Linked DNA regions of Homo sapiens. The protein of the gene in region 1 purifies or fractionates together with the protein of each later gene. This does not show direct contact. Each region holds a gene or a part of one and is shown in the gene's direction. Other genes may lie near its edges. The genes, in order: HDAC7, YWHAE, ADNP and ZYG11B.

The links.
Region 2: the proteins of HDAC7 (region 1) and YWHAE purify together in Homo sapiens (affinity purification with mass spectrometry; 4 studies listed by BioGRID and IntAct, with this or other methods). This does not show direct contact.
Region 3: the proteins of HDAC7 (region 1) and ADNP purify together in Homo sapiens (affinity purification with mass spectrometry; 3 studies listed by BioGRID and IntAct, with this or other methods). This does not show direct contact.
Region 4: the proteins of HDAC7 (region 1) and ZYG11B purify together in Homo sapiens (affinity purification with mass spectrometry; 3 studies listed by BioGRID and IntAct, with this or other methods). This does not show direct contact.

The regions. Positions count from the first base shown.
Region 1 is NC_000012.12:47,816,790-47,824,661, reverse strand, and holds the start of HDAC7 (histone deacetylase 7), read left to right. Parts: upstream 1-4,758; 5' UTR 4,759-4,876; coding exon 4,877-4,895; intron 4,896-7,872. UniProt on the Homo sapiens protein: Responsible for the deacetylation of lysine residues on the N-terminal part of the core histones (H2A, H2B, H3 and H4).
Region 2 is NC_000017.11:1,361,932-1,369,285, reverse strand, and holds part of YWHAE (14-3-3 protein epsilon), read left to right. Parts: intron 1-4,227; coding exon 4,228-4,427; intron 4,428-7,277; coding exon 7,278-7,354. UniProt on the Homo sapiens protein: Adapter protein implicated in the regulation of a large spectrum of both general and specialized signaling pathways. Binds to a large number of partners, usually by recognition of a phosphoserine or phosphothreonine motif.
Region 3 is NC_000020.11:50,921,387-50,928,740, reverse strand, and holds part of ADNP (activity-dependent neuroprotector homeobox protein), read left to right. Parts: coding exon of another isoform or gene 1-90; intron 91-7,354.
Region 4 is NC_000001.11:52,722,240-52,729,469, forward strand, and holds the start of ZYG11B (protein zyg-11 homolog B), read left to right. Parts: upstream 1-4,213; 5' UTR 4,214-4,414; coding exon 4,415-4,444; intron 4,445-7,230. UniProt on the Homo sapiens protein: Serves as substrate adapter subunit in the E3 ubiquitin ligase complex ZYG11B-CUL2-Elongin BC. Acts to target substrates bearing N-terminal degrons for proteasomal degradation with the first four residues of substrates being the key recognition elements.

The DNA.
Region 1 (7,872 bases):
AATGGCAGAGCTGGGCCTAAAACTCAAGTTCCCTGACTCCCAGCCCAGGCTCCTGATCCCCACAATGTCTCCTTTCTAGCTCTCTCCTGATGCTCCTGGCTGGGGACCTGGCATAGTCAAGGGGGTGACCGTTGCCGTCTTTTCATTCATGGTACCTTCTTTGTCTTGGGCTTGAGGAGACTGTCTGGCTTCCTGCCCCTCCCCATCCTGTCCCAGTGCTTTCTCCTTGTGTCCCCTGCCACATAGTTGGCACATAGACACATACATGTATATTCAGAACTGCAGGTGTCTAGGGCAACAGACCACAGGGGAAACCACATCACCTTTGTTGACTCTGTAGGGAGATGGGGGTAAGGGGAAGGGACCAGCTTAGTTCTCTCCACCTGCCCCAGTCCCCACAGTCATCTACCCTCCCAACCTGAGACCCTGGTACTTATAGCCACACTGTAGCCTCTTCTTGATCTAGCCATCCAATTCTGGCCCAGAAGGATTTGGCACCTCTTCTCTCAGATCCTGACATCCTAGATAGGGGTCTGCCTGCCTGTACCCCAAAGTCACACCCCCAACCCTACTCAGAATACTTATACGGTTCCCCTGATTCTGCTGGTGCAGTGCAACAGAGAAAGGTGGGAAACAGGGATGAGACCACATGGCTGGGGTCAGAAACTTGGCATCTGGAATGAGATGTACAGGGACCTCAAGGAAGCAGGCTACACTGGAACAGGAGACCCTGGCAATGCGTCCTTCATTATTTTGACCTGCTAGGAAATTGCACAGGCTCTGAATCAGACATACTTGGGATTAAGTAACTTACTGGCTCTGTGGCCTTGGGCAGATCATTTTGTCTTTCTGAGTTTTACTTTGCTCATGGAAACAATGGGGATAATAATGAGATTTAAGTGAAAGGGCTTTGAACAGCGTGCGATATGTAGAACATGCTCAATAAATCCTAAATTATCTTTCCTTCCTTCTTTTTCTTCCACTCCTTCCTTCCCTCTCTCCTTCCCTCTCTCCTTCCCTCCCTCCTTCCTTTCCTTCCTTCCTTCCTTTTTTTCCTTTTCTTCCTTCCTTTCTTCTTTCCTTCCTTTCTCCCTTCTTCCTTTTTTTCCTTTTCTTCCTTCCTTTCTTCTTTCCTTCCCGTACTTCTTATATCTCTTATGTCTGGTCCCATGAAACCCTTTATTTGGAGTTGGGGACCTAATCTCCCTTACTAATCTGCAAGTCCCAAACCCTGAGAATTGGCATTTGATTCCAGATCCAGAAACTGAAATGCAAGATCCAAACTAACCCAATACAATGAGTGTCCACTGAGATCTCACTGAACTGAGGCCTTGGGGAAGGAGCACTTTCTGGTTGGCTTTGTGCGAAGTGTGTGAGGATAAGTGCAGGCTGGCGGAGGAATTGTGGCTATGGCCCCCACATCTAGAAGGTTGGGAACGGAGGGTATCAGAAAGTTTGGATAATTTTCTGGGGCTTTAAATCCTGGCACAAAGTAGGCACCCAATAATATTTGTTGAATGAATGAATGGCCCTGTCACTTACTAGTTGTGCAACTTTGATCAGGTTTCTTAACCATAAAGGCCATGCTTTACTCATGAGCATAACAAGGATTATTGTTAAGAATAAATGATCTAATGTTTGTCCAGGGGATAGCAAGGACTGCTACGCAGTAAATGGTAAACAGTAGCTAACTAAGGAAAGAAGGAGAGGAAAAGGAGAAGAGAAGGTCAAGTAGGCCCAGAGTCCCAAAGGGAAGCAGATTGGGGTGCCCTCAGGCTTTGTGCTGGCCGGAGACTCTAGGGAAGGCTCAGGAAGCCAAGGCACGTCTTTTGGGGCCAGTCTCTTCTGCTAGGTGTTCAGCTGAGAAAGCTATGAGAGGCCTGGACTCAAGAGCTTTTTAAAAAAAGGCTCCCCACGGTAACCAGGCTAGAAGAGAGAGAGGTAGCTTGCATTTCTCTGTCTCATGTCTCTAAGGTTCTTGGAGGCTTTCTAATTTATCCTGGTAGGGGACATGTGACTTAGAAACTGGCTTAGGACTCTGCCATGAGGCGGGGTCTGGTAAGTAAATCTGGCAGGGGAAGGAGAGACACAGTCCAGCTTTCCCAGATGCAGGTTGCACATGCTGTCTTTTTCTCTGACTATATGTTGGAGGCAGTGAGTCCTGGTGTGTAGAAAGCCACATGTTGGGCACTGTGTGGACAGACAGGCAGGGAGATAGCCTCTTAATTCAGATCACTCAAAACTCAGTGATGAGTTTAAAAAGAGAAAGAAGACTCACAAATAAATGTATGCACAATGCACATGGTAGAAATGAGCATAAAAGGGCCTGGCTTTACTACAGAAATAGCTACAGAAAAGCTACGGATATGTGTGTGTTGGGGGTTGGGATCAATTGTGGAGCTAGACAAGGGAGATAGCAGGCATGTCGCTGGGGGTCTGCAGTAACCAAGCAGTTTTTCTGGAGTCTGTGGACACCAAAGAGGCATTTGGAAGGAGGATGATCTGGCTTGGAATTGAGGGCTGGGGATGACATACCTAAGGTGGAACAGCATGTGTCTTGGAGAGTCAGCATGGGTAGTTATGGGGTGAAAGAATGTACTGTAGGTGTCCAGCTGGAGAAGGGTTCTTGAAAGTCATGAACATCTGTCCCAATTCAACAAATAACTCACATCAAGTTTGAATTCTGTGCAAGACACTACAAGAAATGCACCCATGACCAAGGCAGTAGCTGGACTCAGGGATATCCACTCTTGAATGCTCTTGGAAGGAAGAGAGTTGAGACAAGTAGACTAGGTGGGCGAAGGTCAATGTATAAAGACCACACAGTTCAGGGAAGAATTCCTCTTGGCTATGGGAATCCGGGAAAGCCTCCCGGAGAAAGTGGTATGCCACTTTCTTTTTCTTCCAGTCCTTCCTTCCTTCCTTCCTTCCTTCCCTCCCTCCCTCCCTCCCACTAGATAGGGAGTGGGTCTTGAGGATTGGAAAGATTTCAACAGAAGGAGAAAGGGGCTGGGAGGACATTTCTTTTGGAGGCAGCATGATGAGCGAAGGCAAGGGAGTGTGGAAGCGTGAGGACAGGATGGGAAGCAGCTAGCAGCCCAGTCTGGCAGAAATAATGATAGTAATAATAGTGACTAACACTACTGAGCCCTAAGTACCAGGAGGCACTGGGCAGGGATGTGTATGGAGTGTGGTGCCAGGTTGTAGGAGGACTTGAATGCCAGGAAAGGCTTTTGGGAGGGTAAGTTAACAAGCGCAGAGGGGTTGGATCTGCCTGCCGAAGGAGAACTGGGACAAGGAAAGGGGCTGAAGTAAGAAGTCCCACGCTGAATATGCCGGTAGCAACAGATAGTGAGTCCCGAGCTGTGCCTGAGGGAAGGGAATAGAATCTATGGTTTGAAGTTCACCGCCAGCATGGCCAAGCCCTCCTAGGCCACTGTGGGCTCTTGCTTCCAATCAGACATGACTCCACCTCTGGGGCTGCCTCAATTTTTCCTTCTCTGGATTCTTGGGGTTTCTTAGGATTGCGGGAGATAGAATGGGGTCAGGGGAAGCTGCTCCTTGGTTTACAATGGTGGCGCCTCACGCTGCAGAGAGCCCAGTGTTCCTGCGTGGTGGACCTCTCCCCTTCCTAGGAGCAGCTCCAGATTGCTGGAGGCAGACACGGCTGACCGGCTAGCCCAGGAAGCACAATGGCGAGGTCCTTAGCCCCTGACCCCTGAATCTGACCTTCTCTCCAGCTAAAAGCGGAGGGAGAGGCAGGGAGGGCCACTGCCTAAAGCCGGCCCTGAGCTGAGTTTATTAGCTGAGGGAGGGCTGGAGGCGGCTGCATTCCGACTCACAGACTGGAACATTTCTGTGATCCGCTGTAATGCACTGGGGGACACTGGGCACATTGCTGAAGTTTGACTCATAGGGACCGGGAGGGGGAAAGAGGGGGGTTGTGGAGGGAGAGGAATGGGAGGAAGAGAGGAAGAGGAGAGGAGGGAAGGAAGTCCCTTGAGAAATTTCTTTAAAAAAAGAAAACTTTCAAAATCTGCACCACCCCCACACCCTTTTTCTTTTAATAGGAACAGGCTGGACCCTTCCGTTCCCCTCAGCAGGCATGGTGTGTGTGTGGGGGTGCCAGTGGGGGAGGGCTGGGCAGTGATTCAAATCAGATCCTGGAACTTTCCTGAGGCAAGTCGTGCTTATGTGTGTGTGTGTGTGGTGGGGGGTGTCCGTCTGGGATTCCTTGTATGGGACATGGGACACCACGCGTGTCCCACTGTGCCCGCGTGTGGCTGCGTGCTTGTGGGCTGTACGGGTATGTAGTGTGTGCACGGGGGTCCACCCCGAAGCCCCAGTGTGTGCTGTGTAAATGATTCTGCCCCTTGTAAACATGGATGCGTGCTCGTGTACGTTGTGTATGCGAGGGTGCGTGCGCCCAGGTAGCTGGGTTTCCGGGAATTGTGCACGGCTCGGAGCGCCTCGCGGCGGCTGGGGCTCGGAGCCGCGGCCGGCGTTCCGGGTTCGGCGCTGCCTCCCCGGCAGTGCGCCGCGCCCCGCCGCGATCTGGCCGCGCGCGGTGTCTGCGGCCCGCCTGTGCGCCGCGCGGTGCAGTGTCTGCCGGGGTGGTGTGTCCCAGGGCCGCGAGCGCCTGCCCCCTCCCTCCCCTCCCCCTTGGCCCGCTCTCAGACTCAGATAAAGCATTTCCTTCCATTGTCATCCTACCCGGCCGGCCGGGCTGCCAGGGCCCTCCCCCTCCCGGCCCCCTCCCTTCCTCTCGCCGTCTCACAGTCGCTCTGCAGCCTCCGGCGACTGGGGGGATGTGAGGCCGGCGCCCCAGCCCCCCGCCCCGCCATGAGCCCCCCGCTCTGAGGGCCCCGGCCCCTGGATGCACAGCCCCGGCGCTGGTGAGTACTGGGCGGCCGCCCCCCGCCCCGCCCTGCGCGCGGCACCCAGCGTCGCCCGCCCAGGCTCGGCCTCCGGCCCTGGCCCCGGCTCCGGCTCCGGCTCCGGCTCGGGCTCCCGCCAGCCCCGCGGGCCCAGCCCGGCTTGCGCCCCCCGACCGCGCCTGTCCCGCCCGGCTCCGCGGGGCTCTGGCAGGCTCCGGGTCGGAGCTGGTTCCGGGGGCCGGAGGGCTCGGGCCTCCCGCGGGGCGCCCACATCCGCCCGCCCCGGGGCAGCTACAGGCCCAAGGGAGGGAGTTGGAGGCCCCGGCCGCCGGTGTGCGGGCCCCACGTCCCATCACCCCTGTTCCCGGGGAGGACGAGCCGAGGGACCGGGGAGGGAGGGACGGCCGCGGTGGCCCGGCGAGGGGGCGGTGCTCCGGGGCGGAAGGTTTGGAAGCGCGAGGGCAAAGGGCAGGACCCACTGAGTTGGGGCTGGGCTTTGTGGGGCTGGACATCAGCGCCCCCATCCCGTGGAGCCGGGCAGGGCCCTACTCAGATCCTTCGGCGGGGAAAGAGGTCCCTTGGAGGGGTCTCTGGCTGGGAGGTTTCTCTGAGCATTGCCCCCCATCCTTGCTCACCCATCAGGGTGAAGAGACACCTGTGCCCTGGTGAGCTGTGGAGGTCAATGCCGGCAGCGGCGCGGGAAGCGGGGCGCCGCAGGCTGTGTGAGGGGTGGGGGACAGGATGTGCACCCCCCAGGCCTGGGGTCTGTTGGTGTTGGGGAGTGTGAGAGCAGGCGGCAAATTTGGCGGATGGGCTGGGTTCCCACGACCAGAGTTTCTAGGCCTGTGGGCCAGGAGAGAGCCCTCTGGGGCCCGCAGGCCACCCAGTGCCCCACCCCCATTGCTTCCCGCTGTGGCTGCCCGTTTGGGTCTGACCTCCCCAGCCACGGCTGCTCCTCACTCCTTCTCCCCGCTGGCTGTCTTGCGCACCCAAAGGCCTCCCCCTGCATCTGGACACTGGCTGTCTCGCTGCCAACGCTCCCTGCCCACTCCCCTAGGCAACATCTGCCTGAGGCCCAGCTCTGCCTGCCGCTTTCTAGGGTGAGAATGGGGCATCGGCCCTCAGCGGCCCTGCTGGGAGCTCAAGATCAACTTCTCAGCCTGTTCCCTGGACTTGCATCTGGACCTGTGGGACCTTCCTCAGGACCCCTATTCAGCTATAGGGCTGGCAGGAGACTGTGACTCAGGTCCCTGCCCTCCAATGAGACGCTTTGGCGGCCCTTTCCCCCTCCCAGGACTCCATAGGCTGCTAGGCTGCCGCTACCCATGGGTTATTAAGTCATTTTCTTCTTCTCTGCAGTCATTTCTGAGGGAAACTAAGGCACAGAGTAGTCCCAGTGAGTGGTACCCAGCCCAGTGAACCTAGACTGGAACCAGGTCTTGGACCTATTGGGACTGGTCCTCTGCCTTTAGTCCCCTGATGTCCCTCCTTGCCCAGCAGGGCCAGGCTCAGAGGCAAGCTCAGAGCTGCCTCCTGATGTTGCACCTGGAATGGTCCTGGTGCAGTGTTCTCCAGAGGCCTCTGTGTCCCTTATTCGGCGGGTGTCTCTGTGGCCACCGGGTCTTACAGTGGGTTTTGGGGCAGGGAAGTTTGCATGTCTAAGCTGTTCACTCCACTTTGACACTGAAGTTCAGTTTCCCCATCAGTAAAATGGGGAGAAAATTCCAAGCACACTTCTCAGAGCAGAGCAGAAGAGGTTGACTATGGAGAGGAGAATGAAGGTACTGTGCTATTATCCACCCCCTCCAGTTTGCTTAGGGATAATGGACCTCAGCTTTAGTCCTTGGTGGCCTCTTGGCATGGAAGCTGGAACTTTCTCAATTCTGATATAAAACCCTTGAGCAAGAGAGAAACTCATGTGTGATGGGGTAGGGAGTGGGGACCCTCTGGTAGCTGTGGGCAAGCATGCCCAAGGACTTGGAAGACAGAAGCCTGTGGAACCCCATCTCCTCTTTGCCTTCTTTCTCCTGGCCTTTCATTAAGGGCTGGTAATTTTGAAGTCGGCAGGGGCCTGAGAGAAGGTGAGCTAATGCAAGGCCCAGGGTCACACAGCCAGGGAATGGCAGGCGGAGGGGGCCAGAACCAGGCCTTCTCACTCTGCCAGTGCCCATTCTGCTGGCCCACCCTCCACAGCTTGGCTCTCCCTGGCCTGCCCTCAGTTAGACTTCGGACTGAGGCCTCCAGTGGGGTGTGGGGTATTGCTGGAAGCAGGGCCTGAATAAAGTCTGGGGCTAGCGGGAGGGCATCTGTCCTCCCGGAGGCTCCCAGGACTGTGCATTTGTGTGTGTTGGATTTGTTCACTAGATGGGGCACTTCCTTTGGGGCAGGAAGCTTTGATTTCCTGTGGTGATGGTGAGGAGGGGTTGGTAAGGATTAGGAGTGGGGGGCTCAGCTCTGGGCCATCCTCGATGTTGTTGTTTGGAACCACGGAGGGGCAGAGTTTCTGCTTAAGACTGCTTCTCCCAGCTCTGGGGAGGCAGGAAGGAGAGCCTTGGTGAGGAGGCCCAGGCCAAGGCTGGAGAAGGAGGCTGTGAGAGCAGTGAGCTGGGGGTGGGCAACACAGCAGGAAGCCCGGTCAGCAGGTGACCCTGCCGGGTATTGTGTTTCCTTGTAATATTTTCCCCCTGTTTCTGTGGTAACCTTCCCTGGAGGCCCCAGGCCTTAGGGCTACAGGAAGGTGCCCCCAGACAGCCCTTTCCTTAGAGGCCTGAGTATTAGGAGGAGTCCCCAGATCTAGCCACCTCCCTAACCCTTTTGGCTCCCTAGGATCAGGGGCCTGGGAATCTAGGCGAGTGGCCTGAGTGAGCATGGACTCGCGGGCTGGGGGAAGGCCCTTTGGCGTCTTCTGGGGGGAAGGGAGAGGGAAAGAGGGGAGCTGGACGCCCGGAAGGGCCCTGAGCAACTTGAGTCGCTGGCCTAGCCTCTTGTTTCCTCC
Region 2 (7,354 bases), on another chromosome or scaffold:
CTGACCTCATGATCCACCCACCTCGGCCTCCCAAGGTTTACAGGGGTGAGCCCCTGCTCCCGGCCGAATAGTACACTTTAAATGGGTGAATTGTTAGGTAGGGGAATTATATATAAATAAAGGTATTATTAAAGGGATAATTGTTGCTTCTATAATTTTACCACACAGTCTGTGCATTGTTTTGTGTATATGTAAAAATGAAAGCATTTATGCTTGAATCTGGAACAGTAGAGTATCACTGAGTGTTACAAATATATTTCTCTTTGCATTATAAAAATACTAAGTCTTCGTTGTTGAAAATTTGTAAAGCACAGAAATTTGAACAAAATTAAATCATAAGGAATGATATTCGAGATATGTAACTTAAATTTTTGGTAGTATTTGATGTCTGCATAGTTTTTCTGTATGTAATATTGTAAAGCCTTAAAAGAATTAATGGCACTGTTTTTGTGTAGCTGGGTTACTTAAGATTTACTTTGCGATCAGTTTAGAAAGTTTAATTACAGGCTTACCTCTGAGTTATGTTTGACTTGCTGATTTTTGAGAATTAAACTAGTATGGAGGTACGATTACCTATTCCACTGCTTCTAAATTTAGACTGTTTCGTGACTGGTTTAGAAAACAAAATTGGGCATGTTTTAGATGAATGCTTTCAGACTCCTACAAATGAATTAATGAGTGGTCTTATTACCATATTGTAATACTTTTTTTTTTTTTTTTTTGAGACAGAGTCTCACTCTGTCGCCTAGGCTGGAGTGCAATGGCGCGATCTCAGCTCAGTGCAACCCCTGTCTCCGGGGTTCAAGCGATTCCCCTGCCTCAGCCTCCCGAGTAGCTGGCACTATAGATGCCTGCCACCATGCCTGGCTAATTTTTGTATTTTTCTTTTTCTTTTTTTTTCCTTTTTTTGAGATGGAGTTTCGCTCTTGTTGCCCAGACTGGAGTACAGTGGCGCGATCTCCACTCAGTGCAACCTCCGCCTCCCGAGTTCAAGCAATTCTCTCGCCTCAGCCTCGAGTAGCTGGGATTACAGGCATGTGCCACCACGTCTGGCAAATTTTTTTGTATTTTTAGTTTCTCCATGCTGGTCAGGCTGGTCTCGATCTCCCGACCTCAGGTGATCTGCCTGCCTCGGCCTCCCAAAGTGTTGGGATTACAGGCGTGAGTCACCGTGCCTGGCCTAATTTTTATATTTTTAGTAGAGACGGGGTGTCACCATGTTGGCCAGGCTGGTCTTGAACTCCTGACCTCAGGTGATCCACCTGCCTCAGCCTCCCAAAGTGCTAAGATGACAGGTGTGAGCCACAGCACCCAACATGTCATCCTTCTTTAATGGTTCAGAATTGCATTTAAAAAATCAGCTTGAGGTGTACAGTTAAACGTGCCACTTTTACATGTACAATTCTGTGACCTGTCCTTTGCACAAAAGCCCCTCAGTTCACCTCTGTACCTTGATAACCATTTGCTTTCTGTCTTTTTAGTTTGTGTTTTTTGCAATTTGATATAAATGGAATGATAAAATCCTTTTAATCTGACTCTTTTCACTTAATATGATGTTTTTCAGATTCTTCCATATTGTTGCTTGTATCAGTTAATTATTTTTCTCCCCTCCCGTCTCCTCTTCTCTTTCTGGACACAGAGTCTCTCGCTTTGTCATCCAAGCTGGAGTACAGCGTTAGGATTATACAAAGTAATTGTGGTTTTTGCTGGCAAAATGCGCAATTACTTTTGTACCAACCTAATAGCTCACTGCAGGCCTGAATTCCTGGGGTCAAGCAGTTCTCTTGCCTTAATCTCCTGAGTAGTTGAGACCGCAGGCACACACCACCACACCCAGCTAATTTTTGTAGAGGCAGAGTCTCACCATGTTGCCCAGGTTGGTCTCAAACTACTGGGCTCAAGTAATCCTCCTGTCTTGGCCTCCCCAAATGCTGGGATTACAGATGTGAGCCACTGTGCATGGACAGTTAATTCTTTATTTTTGAGTGGTATCCCATCTTACATATGTGAACATCAGTGTGCTTATACATTTCCCCTCTGGATGCACATTTGAGGGGTTTCCACTTTTTGGCTATTATGAATAGAGTTGCTGTGAGTGAGTGTGTAAAAGTCTTTGTAAAGATTATTTTTCTTCTGGATGATGCATAGAATTGGGATTGCTGAGTCATATGGTACATGTTTATTAAAACATTGCCGAATATTTTTCGAAGAGACTTTACAAAATATGGCTTAATTTTTTTTATATTCCCGAAAGGATTAATTTTTGAAACATATTTTCCTGGATACATTAGGCACACTCCCCTTAATTTAATAGTGTTTTGGTTTTTGTTTTGTGTTTTTTTTTGAAACGGAGTCTCACTCTGTCACCCAGGCTGGAATGCAGTGGTGCAATCTCAGCTCACTGCAACCTCTGCCTCCCAGGTTCAAGCAGTTCTCCTGCCTCAGCCTTCCTGGTAGCTGGGATTACAAGCGTGCACCACCATGCCCAGCTAATTTTTGTATTTTTAGTAGAGACGGGTTTCACCATGTTGGCCAGGCTGGTCTCGAACTCCTGACCTCAGGCGATCCACCCACCTTGGCCTCCCAAAGTGCTGAGATTACAGGTGTGATCCACCGTGCCCGTCCAATTTAGTAGTGTTTTATGAAGTCACCATCTCTTTCATACCTATTAGTTAAGGTATGCTTATGCTTAGGGTGTTAATGAAAGCTAAGGATGCTTATTTAAATGCAGATTCTTTCTTTTGGTTTTTTTTGAGATGGAGTCTGCTCTGTTGCCCCAGGTGGCATACAGTGGGGCGATCTCAGTTGCAATCTCTGCCTCCTGGGTTCAAGCAATTCTGCTGCCTCAGCTTCCCAAGTAGCTGTAATTACAGGCGCGCACCACCAAACGCAGCTAATTTTTGTATTTTTAGTAGAGACCGTTTCACCACGTTGGCCAGGCTGGCCTTGAATTCGTGACCTCAAATGATCTGCCCACCTTGGCCTCCCACAGTTCTGGGATTATATGCATGAGCCACTACATCCAGCCTATTTTTATTTTTATTTTTATTTTATTTATTCTATTTTTTTTTTTTTGAGGTGGAGTCTCTGTTGCTGGGCTGGAGTGCAGCGGCATGATCTTGGCTCACTGCAATCTCCACCTTCTGGGTTCAAGCGATTCTCCTGTCTCAGTCTCTAGAGTACCTGGGACTACAGGCGTGCATCACCACGCCCAGCTAATTTTTGTATTTTTAGTAGAGACAGTGTTTCACCATGTTGGCCAGGATAGTCTTTATCTCTTGACCTGGTGATGTGCCACCTCGGCCTGCCAAAGTGCTGGGATTTACAGGCATGAGCCACTGTGCCCAGCCTCTGTTTTTATTTTTTAGAGACAGGGTCTCGAACTCCTGAGCTCGAGTGATTCTCCTGCCTCAGCTCTCAAAGTGCTAGGGGTATGAGCCACTTACTCCTGGCCCTAAAATGCAGATTCTTGAGTCTCATCACCAAAGATTGAAACGTGGGTAATGTTGGAGAGCCACATGGTAATATGGCATCAAAAATAAGTTTTTATTAATGTATTTATTCAGTTACTATTTCTTGTGCTGTTTGTGGCGCTTTGCATTCACACGCCGTTGTGTTTCCCTATGCTTGCGGTAGATGCCAAGGCTTTTCTGGGCCCCTTTCTTTGCTCGCCACCTAGTGGTAACAAGTAGGAATCATCAGAAGTTTTACCAATGAAGGAGCTTCATACGAGGAAGGATAGAAAACATCCAAAGTCTGTTGGTGGCCAACCATATACTCCGTATATTTTTGCTGTATGAACAAATTCCCCTTCCTTTTGTATTTTTGGAAATACTATTTATTTGTGAGACAATACATTTTAGAACCTGTAAATTCTTAATCTTTCTCTTAAACTGACAGCTCATTTTTTTTTGCTGGAAAATAGTTAGGTGTGCCTAATTACCTTATTTAATGAGAGGTGCTTTCAGACCACACTAAATTATATTAGATAGTATATGAAGTCTTTCTCACTCCACCTAACTACCTTCTGGAGTCTTTGTATTGGCTCTTAGTTTGGTTTCCTTTACATGTTTTTGGCTTTTTACTCATATTAGTTTTGATGATTATGAAATTATTTTTGTTAAAATGTTTTTTTCGCAGTAGCTTGACAGAAAAAAACTACTTTGAAAGGAATATGTTAAGAAAACTTCAAATTTGTAAGGTCTGACTTTTCCTTTTCCCATACAGAAATGGTGGAGTCAATGAAGAAAGTAGCAGGGATGGATGTGGAGCTGACAGTTGAAGAAAGAAACCTCCTATCTGTTGCATATAAGAATGTGATTGGAGCTAGAAGAGCCTCCTGGAGAATAATCAGCAGCATTGAACAGAAAGAAGAAAACAAGGGAGGAGAAGACAAGCTAAAAATGATTCGGGAATATCGGCAAATGGTGAGATTGTTGTGCCATCATCCCCCCTTATCCACAGTTTGAGTTACCTGTAGGACGGTACACTTAAGATTTTGAGAGAAAAGGAGACTACATTCATATAACTTGTATTACAGTATGTTATAATGTTTCTGATATTGATCTTTGTGCCTGGTTTATAAGTTAAACTTACCCGTGGCTATGCATGAGGACAAAACATAGTCTGTATCAGGTTTGGTATTTTCCATGGTTTCATCACATCCACTGGCAGGTCTCAATGGATCCCTCTTGGATAAGGGGGAACTATTGTATTTTCAAGCAAAATGATGACTGTTTTTTAAAAAAATATGGTGGGTTGGCCAGGCGCGGTGGCTCAGGCCTGTAATCCCAGCACTTTGGGAGGCTGAGGTGGGCGGATCACGAGGTCAGGAGATCGAGACCATCCTGGCTAACATGGTGAAACCCCGTCTCTACTAAAAATACAAAACATTAGCTGGGCGTGGTGGCGGGAGCCTGTGGTCCCAGCTACTCGGGAGGCTGAGGCAGGAGAATGGTGTGAATCCGGGAGGCGGAGCTTGCGGTGAGCCGAGATCGCACTGCTGCACTCCAGCCTGGGTGACAGAGCGCGAGACTCCATCTAAAAAAAAAAAAAAGCACCCAAAAACCAATATATTGGGTTAATTTGTCTGATTCCTCTTTTTTTTTCCCTGAGGATTATTTAATGAAGTTATTTTACTTACTGTGGGTGTATATACATATATAAAATGTTTCTTATTGTAGGTCTTGTTAAAAAAAAGTTGGACAGCCATCACTGTAATGCAGCAGTTTTCAATTAGAGGTGCTTTTGTACTTCAGAGAACGTTTAACAATGTCTAGAAATACTTTTGATTGTCACAACTTCTGGAGGGTGTTCCTAGCATCTAGTGGGGTGGGGACTGGGGTGCTGCTAACCATTCTACTGGGCACAGCACGGGCCCCACAACAAACTGTCGGGAGTGCTGCTGTTGAGTAACCGATTCTAGTAGAAGAGACAGGCACGTAAATACAGGAAAGAACAGGGAAGAGAATTACAGGGCAGGTGGAAAGTGAGGTTGGTTGGGGGAGGGAAGGGTGGGGGAACCACAGTTACTGACTCGCCAGCTGTACTGGGCACTGTCCTGAGTAGAGAAATATTTTTGTTACATGTATTTGTGCAAGGTAGTACATGAAATCTTTAAAATGGCACTGGAAGGGGGAGGTATTATCCCAACTATGAATGCACAAACCAGGGTTTTGGGTGTTTGACATACCTGAGGTCACATAGAAAGTTGTGAGCTGGGGCCTTCCGTGGTGGCTCATGCCTGTAATCCCAGCACTTTGGGAGGCCAAGGCGGGCAGGTACCTGAGGTGAGGAGTTCGAGAGCAGCCTGACCGACATGGTGAAACCCCGTCTCCACTAAAAATACAAAAATTAGCCAGGCATGGTGGCGGGCACCTGTAATCCCAGCTACTCGGGAGGCTGAGACAGGAGAATCGCTTGAACCCAGGAGGTGGAGGTTGCAATGAGCCAACGTCGAGCCACTGCACTCCATCCAGCCTTGGCAACAAGAGGGAAACTCTGAATCAAAGAAAGAAAAAGTAAAAAATAAAGAGTCCAGATGTCCTGATGAGTCCCTAAATAGAAATAATAAGAGAAGAGGAACTGAAAAAGGAAGCCACGGGCCAAGAGTGGAGTGTTGCAATTCAGACTTCTAGTATGGAGCAGCATGGTCATGGGTGTGGACAAGTGAAAGTCTAGGAGTAGAGAGCAAAGAACTCTGTTGAATGGAACATGGCTGCACCATACCTTGGTGTGATCTCAGGTATTGGGTGGGTTTGCTGTAGATACTCAGTGAATCTGGGAGAAGGGTGTAGAGATCTATTGATGACAAAAACTGAGAAATAGAATGTAGATCATCAGCTTGTGAGGAGGAAGAGTTTGGAGTAATAGAGCAGTCATTGAGTATGCAAGGAGCTAGGAGAACTTAGAAGTCTTCCTTCTCCTAGACCAGTCTCTATTGGAAAAGCTGTCAGGGATGTCGTTTATTCAGAAAGTAGTTTTGCTTGGGATAAGGATGTGATTATAGAAGAAAAAGAGAGAATTTTCTGCAGTGAAACGGAGGTTCCAGGGGCACGGAGAGGACCCTCATGAAAGGTTCAGCAGTAGTGCTGCATGAGTTAATAGCAAACAGGAAGCAAGCTGAGGATGTGCGTTGAGAGGTGGTGTGCGTGTTCAGCATGATCAGTGGATAGAGATGGGTGGCAGTAGCTACTTTGGTAGATAGGTTTTCGGTGTTTTAATAGTTACGGATCTCTGCCACTAAAGGAATTGCCTGGTGAATGTTGTTAAGGATGTGAGTGCTGAAGGCAAACTGCCTGGGTTTAAATTTTGATTCTGTCCCTTGCAGCCTGCCTGGGTTCAAATCCTAGCTCTGCTTATTAAATTCTTATTTAATTGTTGATCTTAGAGCAATGTCTTTACGTTGCTACCTTGTGAAAGAAGGTAATTCATGTAATTGACCAGCATTTACCAAGAAGCATCAGTGTTCAGTTTTAGTCATTGGTAATTCTGTAGCTGTACTGTGGTACTGTGAAGGGGGTGTGGGGGCTGGCGTGTGTGCGTGCCTGCATGTGTGTGTGTAACAATAGGCAGCATGCAGAAGGGAAAAGATACTTTTTATAACCTAGAGGCAGCTTTTCTCTGCTTTTGTGTCAAGAAGGAAGAAGGGAGTTTGGAGAGGGATACAAATTCTTTTTAATACTAAGCTCTCTACCTCAAAACCAGAGATAGAATATGTAATAATTTGTAGAATTTCTAGACTTAATCTGATTTAAAAAAAATTTTTTTTTTTTTAGGTTGAGACTGAGCTAAAGTTAATCTGTTGTGACATTCTGGATGTACTGGACAAACACCTCATTCCAGCAGCTAACAC
Region 3 (7,354 bases), on another chromosome or scaffold:
GGCCTAGTGGTTATGCCCTGTACTACCATTTTGAGGATCTGGACTCCGTTTCCTGCCTTGCTCTTTGGACCACATTGTCAATTCACACCGGTGGGTATATTCATTTTGGAGGGTGGGAACTGCAGCAACAGGGAAGCCAGAGACTTCCTTCTCCTTGGTCACCACCAAAACCAACACTTCCAAAATTTCAGCCTAGCCACATTCCTCAAGGAACCGGTTAGAGCTGGTTGCAGTAGTGGGTTCTGAACACTTATTAACATAAGAAATTACTTACAGCTTTTTTAAGAGAAATTTTTACAGATGCTAATATTGTAATCATTTGCATTCTACACCCCTTTGTATAAAGTATAAGTATTCAGTTACTATTACTTTGATAACCCAATCTCTAGAGTTGCTAAGCTTCTAAAAGCCTTAAATGTCTGATGAAAACATGGTTTTCCATGAACTTGTTCTTGCTACCAAAGATTGACAGTGGTTGATGTTTGTGGGTACCTTTAAGACTTTGTATGTTACATAAATACACCAAGATAAGTTTATGGAGAACTGAATGGGTGTATTCTTTGATACCTAGTTAACCAGTTGGTGCTTAACAGGAGAATTTTTCATTGGAGAATTGCTACCAGGTAACATTTTGGTGAGTGAAAAGGAGGCCCTTTGGTACAGGTATTTGACTAGAGACATTGCTTCTACAATTTCTTAGTCATTGTGAAAAATCACATATTTAAATGGGATTATTTAAATTTTTAAATACTGTATAGTATTTGTAGGCAGGTATAGTTTTTATCTTTATTTGGTGTTTTATATGCAGTTATTTAAGTTCTGAAAATGACCATATAATTTGAAGACAACTTATTTGACGGAATGTTTGAAATGAAGTTTGTTGAGGGGCTTTTGTTTGATTTAGCGAATGGGATACAGTGTTGAATGATGTCCTAAGTGGTAACAGCCATTTTCCCTTAAAGGAAAACTTGCTGTGAGCTCTTAGAAAGCATGTATTCTACTGTTTCAAAGGTTTCTTGGTTTTAACACTCAAAAAATAAGGTGAGGCCAGGTGAGGTGGCTTACGCCTGTAATCCCAAAACTTTGGGAGGCTGAGGCAGGAGAATCACTTGAGGCCAGGAGTTCAAGACCAGCTTGGGCAACATAATGAGACCCTGTCTCTACCAAAAAAAAAAAAAAAGTGAAACAATTGGGCTTGAAGACTGGAATTTATAGTAGGTAAACTATATACTTCATTAAAGTATAGTAAAAGGTTCAATTAACTAGAGTGTGGGGAATGGGTATTCTGTTTAACTGAACTTTAAGTAGAAATTCCTTTTTTATCTTGGCCTTTGTTGAAAAATTTCCTGAGACTAGCTTATTAGGAGCTATATATTGAAACTAACCTCTTTGATTTTGGTTTTTATAGTTCCTGTATAGAAAATATAGGAGATTGGGCTGAAAATCTCTTAATGACCCTTGGCCCTTCCAACCTTGGAAGTCATTGATTTTATACATGCCCACTGTGAATTTGCTTTGCTTTGCTTAAGTTTATCTTTTTCTCCTTATACCAGAGTGCAGGAAGAGTTTTAATACTATTTATATTAAAATAAGAACTTCACAACCTTGAACAGATGGTTTTGGTACCACTTGCAAGTAACCAACCAGTAGGCTTTTATCAGGCAAAAATGGCTTATTATTTATATTTGATTATTAAAAGTATAGGTATATAAGGCATACTATGTGAAGTTGTTGCTTTCCTTGTAACTACTTACACGTTTTGAAAGTATTAAAAAGTTAGTATTTTGAAAACTAAAATACTCAAGTTTATTGATTAAATAAGATGATGCTGGCTACAAATTTTATTTTGAAAATTGCAACTTAATAAGGAAGATAAAGCTGTTTTGTAAAGGAGAAAGTAGAGATTGATACTTCATAGGGTAAAAAAAAGAAAAACTTCAGCATTTATGTTTCTTCTTTTGAGAATCATATATAAGTAACAAAACTGCATAAATTGCAATAGACCTAGGTCACTTGATTTCACAATTGGGTGTGTGTATGTATGTACACATACATATAAAATATATGTAGGTTTTCTAGAGCTGGAAATGATTGTCATATTATTAAATACAGATGAAAAGTTCAAGTATCACGTGTAGTTTGGGGAAAGTACATTTAGTTTTGAGATGTAGTTTGGGGACAATACATCTAAGTGTAGTAAAAAAATACCAGAATTAAACTTTATGTATGTATTTTTTCCAAGTAACCTATTTAAATCTTAGTGAAATAAAGATTTTTAAAGTAATATGAAAGAAAAAAATAGGAAGTTTTTATTTTACAACATTAGAAGCATTATTGTGGTTTACACCAAAGTACCCATGACTGTTGTGTAAATAAGCTACTTGTTCAACCTGGAGTTCCAAAGGAGTTTTTAAAAGAGCATCATAAAGTCAGTTATGTCTTACATAAGGTAAAATAACTTTCAGTGGGAGTTTAACCTTCATTCTCTTGACTGAGAGGCATGTACATTAAGAGAAACATTGCTCCCCTATGTGTAAATAATTTAATTATAGTTGGATTCACAGAGCTTGACTTGTTATTAGCATCGTATAAACTTAAAGTTTTTCCTCCCCTAGTTTTTGTGTGTTGTTTGTTTGTTTGTTTGAGACAGTCTTGCTCTGTCTCCCAGGCTGGGGTGCGGTGGCCCAATGTCGGCTCACTGCAACCTCTGCTTCCCGGGTTCGAGTGATTTTCCTGCCTCAGCCTCTGAGTGGTTGGGATTACAGGTGCCTGCCACAACGCTTGGTTAATTTTTGTATTTTTAGTAGAGATGGGATTTCGCCATGTTGGCCAAGCTGGTCTTGAACTGCTGACCTCAGGTGATCCGCCTGCCTTGGCCTCCCCAGGTGCTGGGATTATAGGCGTGAGCCACCGCTCCCAGCCCCTCTCCTAGTTTTGTAAGAGCTTGTGATAGTAACTGGAGTAAATGCCGTATTTTGCTGATGTACCTCACTGCCAGTTAACACCTTCTATGTTGTTAGTTTGGAAACTCGGTGTTTGAAACTAGTATAAACCAAAGCCCCATGCTAATTAACTGAATTGATACTTTGAATGTAAAAGCTGTTTCTTGTTTTTACTTTGGCACTTTCCACCTTGATTGTTGAGATACTTTATTTGATAAACCGTCCATGCTTTGCCCATTGTGGGTGGCCATTGTGATTTCATGGTTTTTTGTTGTTTGTCTGATCCTGTTTATTAGAAAGTGAGGAGAGGATGATTATGTTCCTTCATCCTCTCAGTGTCTTAGTACTCCCTACACCTGCGTTATGTTATGACCTACCTTTGCGATCTGCCAGTTTTGGGGTCAGCTTAAGTGAGAATTCATATTCTGCTTCACTGGAATGAGAAGGCTCTCCTCACATATTATCATGCTTCTCAAGTTGGTATATATGAGCCAACTTGATTATGTAGTGTGTGTGTGTGTGTGTGTGTGTGTGTATAGGAAGTCACAGATAAAAATTGAGCCAACTGTGGAAAGTGACAGTTTTGATTGCAGGGCACACGTTTTTTTATTCTAATCAATGAAAAATGCAAAATTCATATTACTGTTTTTAGTCCTGGGTCCTGTCATCTCTGTGTATTAATTCAGTCCTCTGCCTTAAGGAGTTCCTTGAGATTTCACTCACAAGCTTTGGTATTATTGATCCCTACCTTGGTTCCAAGACAGCAGCTAGAGAAAGCCTGGAACCTCTCAAGAATTTCAGCAGTGTTCTGGAAATAAAGATTTAGAAAATAAGAGGAAAGCATAGACAACGTTGGATGGAGTTTACAAAGGGAAGCCTGCTCTGAATATATGCCACAGTTTTAGATTTAAGTTAAAGATTTAATTTAAAAGCATACACGTAATCTAAAAGAGTCATGCATTATTTGACCAGCTGTTAGAATTAAAAATGAATCTGCATATCCTAATACCCTCTTCAGTAAGGGTATAGATTTGTAATTGAGTCACTTAGCTGTGGGTTGTGTTTATATGTCACTTCTCATGTGACTGTGATGACTTTAATAAGGATGTGCTGCTTAAGTGTAAAGGCCCCCTTGCTGGCCTTTATGGTATTATAGTATTGGTGGCTTGTCTGTTTTATTTTCCAAGCACTTTATAAACTATTCCCAATTTTCTCAGGACTATCCTTGTTTCACAAGTAGGGAAATCAAGGCACTACCACATACAATGATGAAATGAGCCACAGAGTATGTCTGGGCTGGTTCCCAGGCCTGTGCTTGCAACACAGGCCTTTATGGTGCTCTTGTAAGCTGTTTGGCTAATGGGGGCTCACATGAATGCTTCCCATTTCACAGTGAGGTTTTATGCTTCCATGTGAGCTTAAACCCAAGGATTCCAATGGCGTCTACATGTAAAGAAGCTAGCCACACCCCCAGCAGGGAGAGTATGGGTGTAAATTGTGCAGGTGGCAGTTAATTGGAGTAGCATATTTCTGCTGGGAAGTTAACTGTATAAGAATCTAAAAAGAAACGTTGTTTATGTTCCCTTTTCTTTTCCCAGTTTTTTAGTTTAAGACAGTCAGTCTGTCCTGAGCAGTTACTTTTTTCTTAGATAATTGCTGGCTTTTACCCTTTCTTTTTCTGAATCCTTCATGCTCCATTTAAGAGCTTGTGGAAACCTGTGCTTCAGTTGACAATCTGTAAAGCTCTGCTCTTCTGGTGGAAGCTCATGACCTGAGAACCTTTTGAGTGGTCTCTTTTGAGAAACTCCTGTCTAGTGGAAATATGGTGGAATTTATTAAAATTTTCAATTCGAATTATAAATTTAGGTTGACAGAATCCTTGCTCTTGTGAAAGAAGTGAGCTGAGACTGGGAGTATCCAAATGCAAGAAGTGCTCAGAATCCTGCTTCAAGATCAGTTACACTTAAAAACAGCAACAAGAGGATGGGTGCGGTGGCTTACATCTGTAATCCCAGCACTTTGGGAAGCCAAGGCTGGCGGGTCACCTGAGGTCAGGAGTTCAAGACCAGCCTGGCCAACATGGTGAAACCCCATCTCTACTAAAAATACAAAAGTTATCCTGGTGTGGTGGCACTCACATGTAGTCTCAGCTACTTGGGAGGCTGAGGCAGGAGAATCACTTGAACCTGGGAGGCGGAGGTTGCAGTGAGCCAAGATGGCACCACTGCACTCTAGCCTGGGTGACAGAGTGAGACTCAGTCTCAAAAAAAAATAAAAATAAAAAACAGCAACCAAAAAAAATGCAAATAAAACTTCTCTGAGGAAAGTGTGAAAACTTGAGCCATCAAGTGGCAAAACCTGGTACAAGAACGCTTTTGAAAAGCTACCTTCGGTGAAGCCTTGATCCTGGGAAATGGCTTCGAAAAACTTGAGAACATAGTTTAAATATTCTGTTACTCAAGAATAGTGAAAGAAATATATTTCCTATTGTGGGAAATTATTTCTGAGTAGTTTCGGTAGAGCATAAAAATGTATTATTAGGGGATCAAAATAACGTTTTATGTCATTTAGATACAAAGACTTGGCATGCTTCTGAAATAATTTATAAATGGACATATCTGCGTGTCCTCTTGTGGTGTTGTGATACATACTGGTTTTCATCCACCACGGTTCCTGGCTCATAACACCCATAACCCCATTACCGTGTTTTGTTATAATATAGGGTACGTTAGGTCTCAGAAAATAATCTCTGATCTTCTCCTGCTCTCCTTACACGTGTCCCAAGGCAAGATTCTGATCTTTACCCAGCTTTCTGATTGTAGGTCTTGAGATCCTCTCTAGAGAGAGGGTGTTGGCCCTATACCCCGGGGAAGGGAAGTAAGGTTTCCTATATGAAGCTTTTATAAAAACCCAGGAGGGCCAGGCGCGGTGGCTCACGCCTGTAATCCCAGCATTTTGGGAGGCTGGGGGCGAGCAAATCACAAGTTTAGGAGTTTGAGACCAGCCTGGCCATCGTGGTGAAACCCCATCTCTACTAAAAATACAAAAAAAATTAGCTGGGTTTAGTGGTGGGGGCCTATAATCCCAGCTACTCAGGAGGCTGAGGCTGGAGAATTGCTCAAACCCGGGAGGCAGAGGTTACAGTGAGGCGAGATTGCACCACTGCACTCCAGCCTGGGGGACAGAGTGAGATTCTGTCTTTAAAAAAAAAAAAAAAAAACGCAGGAGGACTGGGTTCAGAGAGCTTCCAGATAGTTGAACACACCTGGAGGGTGGCGCCCCCAGAGAGGGTATGGAAGCCCAGTGCCCTTACGCATTTCTTTATCTGTACTTTTTATAATAAACCGGTAAACATAAGTGTTTCCCCAAGTTTTGTGAGATGCTCCAGCAAATTAATAGAACTCAAGGAGGGGGTCTTGGGAACCCCAGCTTGAAGTGTCAGTCAGAAGTTCTGGAGGCCCAGACTTACAGTTGGAGTCTGAAGAAGGAGAGAGCAGTTTTGGGGACTGAGCCCCCATCTTGTGGAATATGACACTGTATCCAGGTAGACAGTGTCAGAACCAAATTAGAGGATACTCAGCTGGTGTCCGCTGCTTGGGAAAAAACCCTACACGTTTGGTCACAGAAGACAACTTCACGACTTCTGTGTGGTGTGAGGGCAGAGGAAAAACAAAGTTTGAGAGTTTTCCCCTAAAGCACCCCTTAAGGGCTACTTGTGAATTATTTCCCTTTTTCACATTGATCTTAAGCCAGATTGTCCACTTACAGCGACAGCAAGTGGCTGTATGCCTGTGGAGTTCTTATGTAGGCAGTGGAGTGCTAGAATCACTCTTTATGCTGTGTCCCTGCCTTGCTGCAATACCTGTTTAGAGTGAAGTAAACTGGGAAGTGCTCCTCACCTCACACTCTCCCTAAATCTAAATTGGTATATTATAAAGTATCCTCAGTCTGTTTTTCTTGTTTAAGTACCGAGGCATCTTCCCCCGCTTTCAAATACAATTTTAGGTGAACTCTTAAATTGATGAAGGGTCGGGGGGCCAGACCTCTGGCTGCCCAGCTTTCACCTTGTCCCTCAGGCATCATCTTCCCTCTGTTTGTATACATATCTTAAACTCTTAGAGGAGTTCAGCCTGAAAACAACTGGTTCTACTGGTGTACTGGAAATTCTGGTGGTCACTGCTAGAATTCTTGCCTGAAATCTGAATACGGAAAGTATCAGGATAAGCAGCAACACAGTAGCAGTTTTCCAGTTGTGGGCACCAGTCTTGTAGTCTGAAAATCTTCCTAAAAGACCAGTGACTCCACATATTTTTTAAAACTTAAGATACGCAAAATCTAGATGACACCTTTATGTTTCTACATAACTGTAAGTCACCTGGGTTTATTTAAGATAGTTGCAGATGTTCAGTTGC
Region 4 (7,230 bases), on another chromosome or scaffold:
CTTATTTATTTATTTATTTTTGGAGATAGGGTCTTACTCTGTCACACAGGCTGGAGTGCAGTGGCGTGATGATGCCTCATAGCAGCCTCGACCTCCAGGGCTCAGGTGATCCTCCCACCTCAGTCTCTTGAGTAGCTGAAACTACCACCATGCCCAGCTACTTTTTGGTATTTTTTTGTAGAGATGGGATTTTGCCATTTTGCCCAGGCTGGTCTCAAACTTTTGGTCTCAAACCATCTGCCTGCCTTGGCCTCCCAAAGTGCTGGGATTACAAGTGTGAACCACCTTGGCTGGCTAGAACTCTAATTTTTTTTTCTTTCTTTTTTTTTTTTTTTTTTTTTGAGAAGGAGTCCCTCTCTGTCGCCCAGGCTGGAGTGCAATGGAGTGATCTTGGCTCACTGCAACTTCCGCCTGCCGGGTTCAAGCGAGTCTCCTGCCTCAGCTTCCTGAGTAGCTGGGACTACAGGTGCGCACCGCTACACCCAGCTAATTTCTTTTGTATTTTTAGTAGAGATGGAGTTTCACCATGTTGGCCGGGCTGGTCTTGATCTCCTAACCTCATGATCCACCCACCTCAGCCTCCTAAAATGCTGGGATTACAGGCCTGAGCCACCACACCCAGCCCAGAACTCTAATTTTTAATGACGATTTTCCTCCACTACAAGGAAGTCCTTAGGGAAAGTAACTCACAGATCAGACGGAGAGTAAATCATGATTGGTCTAAGCTACTATTGTTGGTCCTATTCTCTTTGGTATTTATTGGCTTATCCATGGTACTTGAGGGGAAGTCTATTGAGTAACTACTAAGAAAAATTGTAGCTTACTAGACATATAAGGGGATATGTTTAGCTGGCAGTTAGATATTTAAGTATGAAATTCAGAATGCAGATATAATTTTGGGGTTATCACAGCATAGATAATATTTAAAGTAATGTGTTGGGATAAGATTATCAAGGAGTGTACATGCAAAAGACAAAAAGTCGAAATATTGAGCCTTGGGGTACTACAGTATTTAGAGGTCAGAGAAATGAGGAGAAACTAGGAGCAGCCAGTGAGATAGAAGACCCGAGGGGGTGAAATGTCATGGTAGCCAAGGAGGGGGAAGTAATGAGCTGTGTCTAGTGATGTTGGTAGGTCAAGTAACACGAGGACTGAGAATTGACTGGTGTCAGCAAATGGACACCACTAGTGACCTTGACAAGGGCATTTCAGTGGAGTGGAGGAGGTAAAAGCTTAACCAGAGAGGATCTCACCGAAAATGAGAAAAAGGAAGTCAAGGCCAGGCGAGGTGGCTCATGCCTGTAATCTCAGCATTTTGGGAGGCCAAGGCAGGCAGATTGCTTGAGCTCAGGAGTTCAAGACCAGCCTAGGCAACATGATGAAACCTCATCTCCACAAAAAATACAAAAATTAGTTGGACGTGGTGGCACATGCCTGTAGTTCCAGCTACTTGGGAGGCTGAAGTGGGAGGATTGCTTGAACCCAGGAGGCTAAGGTTGCAGTGAGCTGAGATCGCACCACTGCACTCCAGCCTAAGCAACAGAGTGAGACCATGTACAAGCCACCTTTGTGAGACATTTTGCAGAAAAGAGAATGGAGAAATGGGGCAGTAGGTGGGGGGTCAAGTCCAGTCAAGAGAGGGTTTTTTTTTTTTTTTTGAGGTGGAGTCTCGCTCTGTTGCCCAGGCTAGAGTGCAGTGGCGTGATCTTGGCTCACTGCAACCTAAGGAGGGTTTTTTTGTTTGATTGTTTTAAGATGGAAGAAATAAAATCATGTTGCTATAGCAATGAGAGGTAATAGCAGAAAAATAGCGATGTAGGTGAGAGGAAGAATTGCTGGATAGGTGTCTTTGAGAAAGTGACGTGGTATGAGACCTAGTACTTGAGCTCCTCAAAGTGTCATCAATGGACTAGTGACCATCTAGAAATGGTTTTTCACCAGTTTGTGACAGCAATTCAGAATTAATATTTTGAAACTTTTATAACAATTTGACAGAAAAATGTTACGCGTGTTGGGTTTAATAATAAAAATTCTGCCTAGAGTAGTCAAATTCATAGAGATAGAAAGCAGAACAGTGATGGCGAGGGATTGGGGGAAGTTAGGAATGGGGAGTTATTGTTTAATGAGTACAAGCTTTCAGCTTTGCAAGATAAAAAAGTTCTGGAGGCCTGGCACATTGGCTCACGTCTGTAATCCTAGCACTTTAGAAGTCTGTGGCAGGAGGATTACTTGAGCCTAGGAGTTTGAGACAAACCTGGGCAACACAGTGAGACCTTGTCTCTACAAAAAAAAAAAAAAAAAAAGGTAGCCAGGCGTGGTGGTATGTGCCTGTAGTTCTAGCTGCTTAGGAGGCTGAGGTGGGAGGATCGCTTCAGCCCAGGAGTTTGAGGCTGAGTGAGCCGTGATTGTGCCACTGTACTCCTGATGGGTGACAGGGTAAGAACTTGTCTCAATAAATAAATAAATAAATAAATAAAAGAAAAAATAAAAAGTTCTGGAGCTTCTTGATGGGGATGGTTGCACAACAATGTGAATGTATTTAATACCATTGAACTGTACACTTTAAAATGGTTAAGCAGGTTTAAAAAATCTGGGCTTGCATTTTGGATGCTTGTTTTTAAATTTTAATTTTTTCTAGTAATTAATTTTGATTGTATTTTACAGAAATTTAGTTTTGTGATTGGGGATAAAATCTGGGTCTTTTAGCACAGATGCTTGAGAACTGAGGAGGATTTGATGTTAGCTAAAAGACAAATAATTAACTTGTAGTAAGGAAAGGAAGGCAGAGAGAGCATCAAAGCAGAGTTACAGGTTCGTTGGAAGTCATGGTGGGTGCTGGGAACTTGTAGATGTTCTTTTTGGTTTGTTTGATTTTCTTGTGAATTAGAAGCAAAATCATCAGCTAAATGAGATGAGGGAGGAAGTGTCGGAGGTTTGAAGAGACAGGAGACTTGAAATAGTTATGTAGCAAGGTGGGAGAGTGTGTGAAACTGGAGAAATGTGGTAGGGTAGCCACTCATTATGGCCTCTTGAGAATAATGATCTCAAATTTACGGGGAGTCAGTCAACCACTTTTGGCTTTTTCTCCACCCACTCCATTGCTGGAGTTCTGTCAGTACAAAGAAAGCAGAGAACGACTAGAGAAATGAAGGTAATACTGAAGAAATCGACTTCATGTACCTCATGTACTCACTTTCTTCCCCAAACAGCTTAGATTCTATTAGATTCCATTTCATGACGGACGATAGAATCTAAGCTGTTTCAGGAAGAAAGTGAGTACATAAGGCCAGCGTGGGGAGGAATAGCGAAAAGGTAGTTGGATCAATGGATTTGGGGTCTTGGAGTTGAAGTTTTTGGAGTTGGAGTATTATCAGACAGAGTGAGCTAGAAAGGAAGAAGGTTGTGGCCGGGCGCAGCGGCTCACGCCTGTAATCCCAGCACTTTGGAAGGCCAAGGCAAGCGGATCACCTGAGGTCAGGAGTTCGAGACCAGCCTGGCCAACATGGTGAAGCCACTTCTCTACTAAAAATACAAAAATTAGCCGGGTGTGGTGCCGGGTGTTTGTAATCCCAGCTACTCGGGAGGCTAAGGCAGGAGAATCACTTGAACCCGGGAGGTGGAGGTTGCAGTGAGCCAAGATCGCACCACTGCACTCCAGCCTGGGCAACAAGAGCGAAACTCCATCTCAAAAAAAAAAAAAAAAAAGAAAGAAAGAAAGAAAGAAAGAAAGGAAGAAGGTTGCAATGGGAGTTAGAGGATTAAAATTGAGATTGTAGAGAAGTTACAATTATTCGTATGAGCATGAGAGTGAGAGGCTGAGCCAAGAATGATCCCTAGAGAAGAATCTGAGAGGCCAGAGGATTGGAAGAATTAAGCGAATTTTGAAATAACCAAGAGTTATGACAATAGTAGTAATGAATGACAGTGAACCAGAAGCCCAAATCTTAGAGAATGATGGTGAATGACAGAGGAGTCTATAGGTGACCGAAGTGAGCGATGCTCTAATCTCTCGTCATGATGTAATATTTAAAGCTTTTCATATTTTGAAGGGATGCTAGGATTTGGGGGTGTGTGGCTCCTTTAAGGGCCTGGGAGGGGGAGAAGCTGGAGGTCGGGCTGGGGGGGGCGGGACCCCCTCGTCTGAGTCTGCGCATTGAGAGCGGAGGCGGGTCCAGGCGCGGGCTCGCGCGCCCGGGCGGGTCCTCGCGGGGGCGGAGTCTGCGCTCTGGTTCGGGCTGCGGCTGCGGCTGCGGCTGCGGCTGCTACTGCTACGCTCCTAGCTTGAGGGAAAGAGGCCGAGGCCTGGGCCAAGCCCGGAGCCGCCGCTCGCCGGAGCCTCCTGGAGCCTCCGCGCCGGCTCAGCCTGGGGGCGGGCTCCGGTCCGGCCCGCCGCCGCACCCAGGACGGAGGCTGCATGCCCGAGGACCAGGCCGGCGCAGCCATGGTGAGGGAGCAAGGCCTGCCCTAGCCGCAGCCGCCCGCCACCCTAGCCCCCGCCCGTCGCGCTGGCCCCTGCGGTCTTGCCCCTCCCTGTCTCTGGTGTCCCCTCGGGCTCCCTGCCTTTACCTCTCTCCCTCGTTACCGCCCCCTCGGTGTTCAGCTCCTCCTTCCCCATTCACCTGCTTCGGTGAACCCCTTTAGGTGACACCCCCTGAATCTCCCTTCTCCCCGATGACATCCTTTTTATCACCCCCAGTGACAGCCTTTTTCGCATTCCCTTTGTCGCCCACTCCTTGTCCTTTAACCCTAACCCTTCCTTTCTTTCTCCTCTATCATTTTGCCTTTTTTCCTCTTATGTGATTTTTACTTTCCCCCCTTTCCTCCCTAGTTTTCGCTGCTCTTCCTTGCTCTTCTCACCCCTCTTCACCATTTTATCTCCACTGCCCCCTTCTCTCCGTGTTCCTTCTCCCCTTCGTCCTCTTCCATCCACGTTTCCTCTTCCCTTATCGGATGTCCTCGCTCGGTTCGCCGTCGCAGCTGTCCCCATTTCCTTCTACGGGCTTCAGGGGTCTAAGCAGGAACAATTTGAGGACTGTTGCTTCCCGGGAGCTGTAGGGCGGGCAGATAGGGATTTATAGGTTTGCTTCTTCCTTTTCGTTTTTGGAGGCATTGAAGAGATCCTGGAAGCCTATTCACCTAGTGTCATTGCAAAATCGAAGTGGTGGTGTGTTACAGAGCAGTGAAGTGAGGGCCAGCATGCATACTGTGACCTCAGGAGAGATCTAGTCTTTTGACAGAAATAGCTAAAAAATGTTTTGAATTTTTTTTATTTTGAGCATCTTTTAATGTGGAGGTGCAGTTGGAGAAGTTTAAAAATACTTATTTACAAGCTTGGCTATTATTACTAAAAACAAATGATTTGTTTTCATTTGGAGGCAGAGACCAAGGGCATTTGAGGACTGACAATCAGGTTGGCAGGTTGTGACAGTCTCTTTAAACCTTCTAAAGAGTTCATTTGTTTTGCCCTGTCTGCCTTTAGTTGGGAGAACCTTATATTTGCAAATTTTCTTTCTGTCTGAAAATAGGTTGAGGCTTCAGTTGGTTTTTTCATTGAGTTGGGTTATAAGTGGTTTGCTGTACATTTATTGAAAACATTGCTCCATCATATGCAACAAGCTAAATTTTGGTCTCTGGGAGGAATAAGGCAAAACTAAGTCCTGATAATTATGTTCCCCTAGGAGGTTAGTCAGTTTCTTTTTTTCCCTCCAGCAGTTTTTTAGAAAAGTAATATACTATAAAATTATTTAATCTATGAATTTTCCCTAACTCACTCCTGCATTTTTAGTCTGTCATTTTCCTGTGTTTGTCTCCTTCACTTTCACACACTGTTGTTGTATGCTAACCTGTTTCTCCCTGTGGAATGTAAGTTCTAGGTAGCAACCGTTCCTTACTTATTATTCCAAGTGCCCAGGCCAGCTAGGTGCTTGAATGATTCACTTTATGGTCTCATTTCCCACCTGACTAATATAAACTTAAACTGAAATTTGAGGTAACTAGTGGACTACACAGAAAGAGTGAGTTTGAGAATTGTTGTTTGGAGACGATCTTGCTCTGTGGCCCAGGCTGGAATGCAGTGGCACAATCATGGCTCTTTGCAACCTTGAACTCCTGAGGTCAAGTGATCTTCCCACCTCAGCCTCACAAGTAGCTGGTACCACAGGCACGGACTACCGTGCCCCGCTAATTTGTAAAACTTTTTGTAGAAATGGAGTCTTGCTGTGTTGCCCAGTCTGGTCTTGACCTCCTGGATTCAAGCCATCCTCCCACCTTGGCCTCCCAAAGTGCTAGAATTACAGGCATGAGCCATCACGCCTGGGCAGAGAATCTTAATTTTGATGCAAAAATGATATTGAGTGAGGTATGATGATATACTTTTCAGAATAAAGAGCTATCCTACCTAAGACATTACACTGCTAGATTTTTGAAAGTGTGGGCCCTTCCATTGAGAATGAATGTATGAGAGGGAGGAGTTATGAACTCCCCTTTGAGGTATTTAGGATCTAAAAGTGTCCTTTGAGCTGGGCCTGAAAGTTGAATAGGATTTATATAGATCATTTTGGGAAGGGGAAGAATGCCTCATTGTGAATGTGAGTAGCAAGTAGAAAGGATCCCCTCACAGGGATTTTTTTTTTTTTAAGAAAGAAAGTAGGAAGGAATTAGGATGCATTGTAGGAAGTAGTATTACCCTTATATAGCATGGAAGGATGCAAGAATGGAGATGTGTAGTAGGAAATGAGGCTAGCAAGATACTGTCTTAGCCCATTCAATCTACTGTAACAAAATACCATAAACTAGGTAGCTTGTCAGCAACAGAAATTTATTTCTCAGAGTTTGGAAGGCTGGGAAGTCCAAAATCAGTTCCCCAGTGGATTCAGTGTCTCGTGAGGGCTCTTCCTAAGTCACCTTTTCACTGTTTTCACACATGGTGGCAGGGGCCAGGCAGCTCTCTGGAGTCTCTTTTATAAGGGCACTAATCCCATTCATGTGGGCACTAACTGGTGATCTAATCACCTCCCAAAGGCCCCACCTCCTCATACCATTACCTTGGGGGTTAGGATTCCAACATATGAATTTAGGGAGACAGAATTCAGACCACAGCAGACATATTAGGCATGATTATGTTTTAAACTTTGCATCTAATTAACTTGATTTTTCCTTGCTTGTTAAAACATATACACACAGAGTAACAGTGTATGTATGGGAGAGGTGAGGAGAAGGCAGAATATTAGC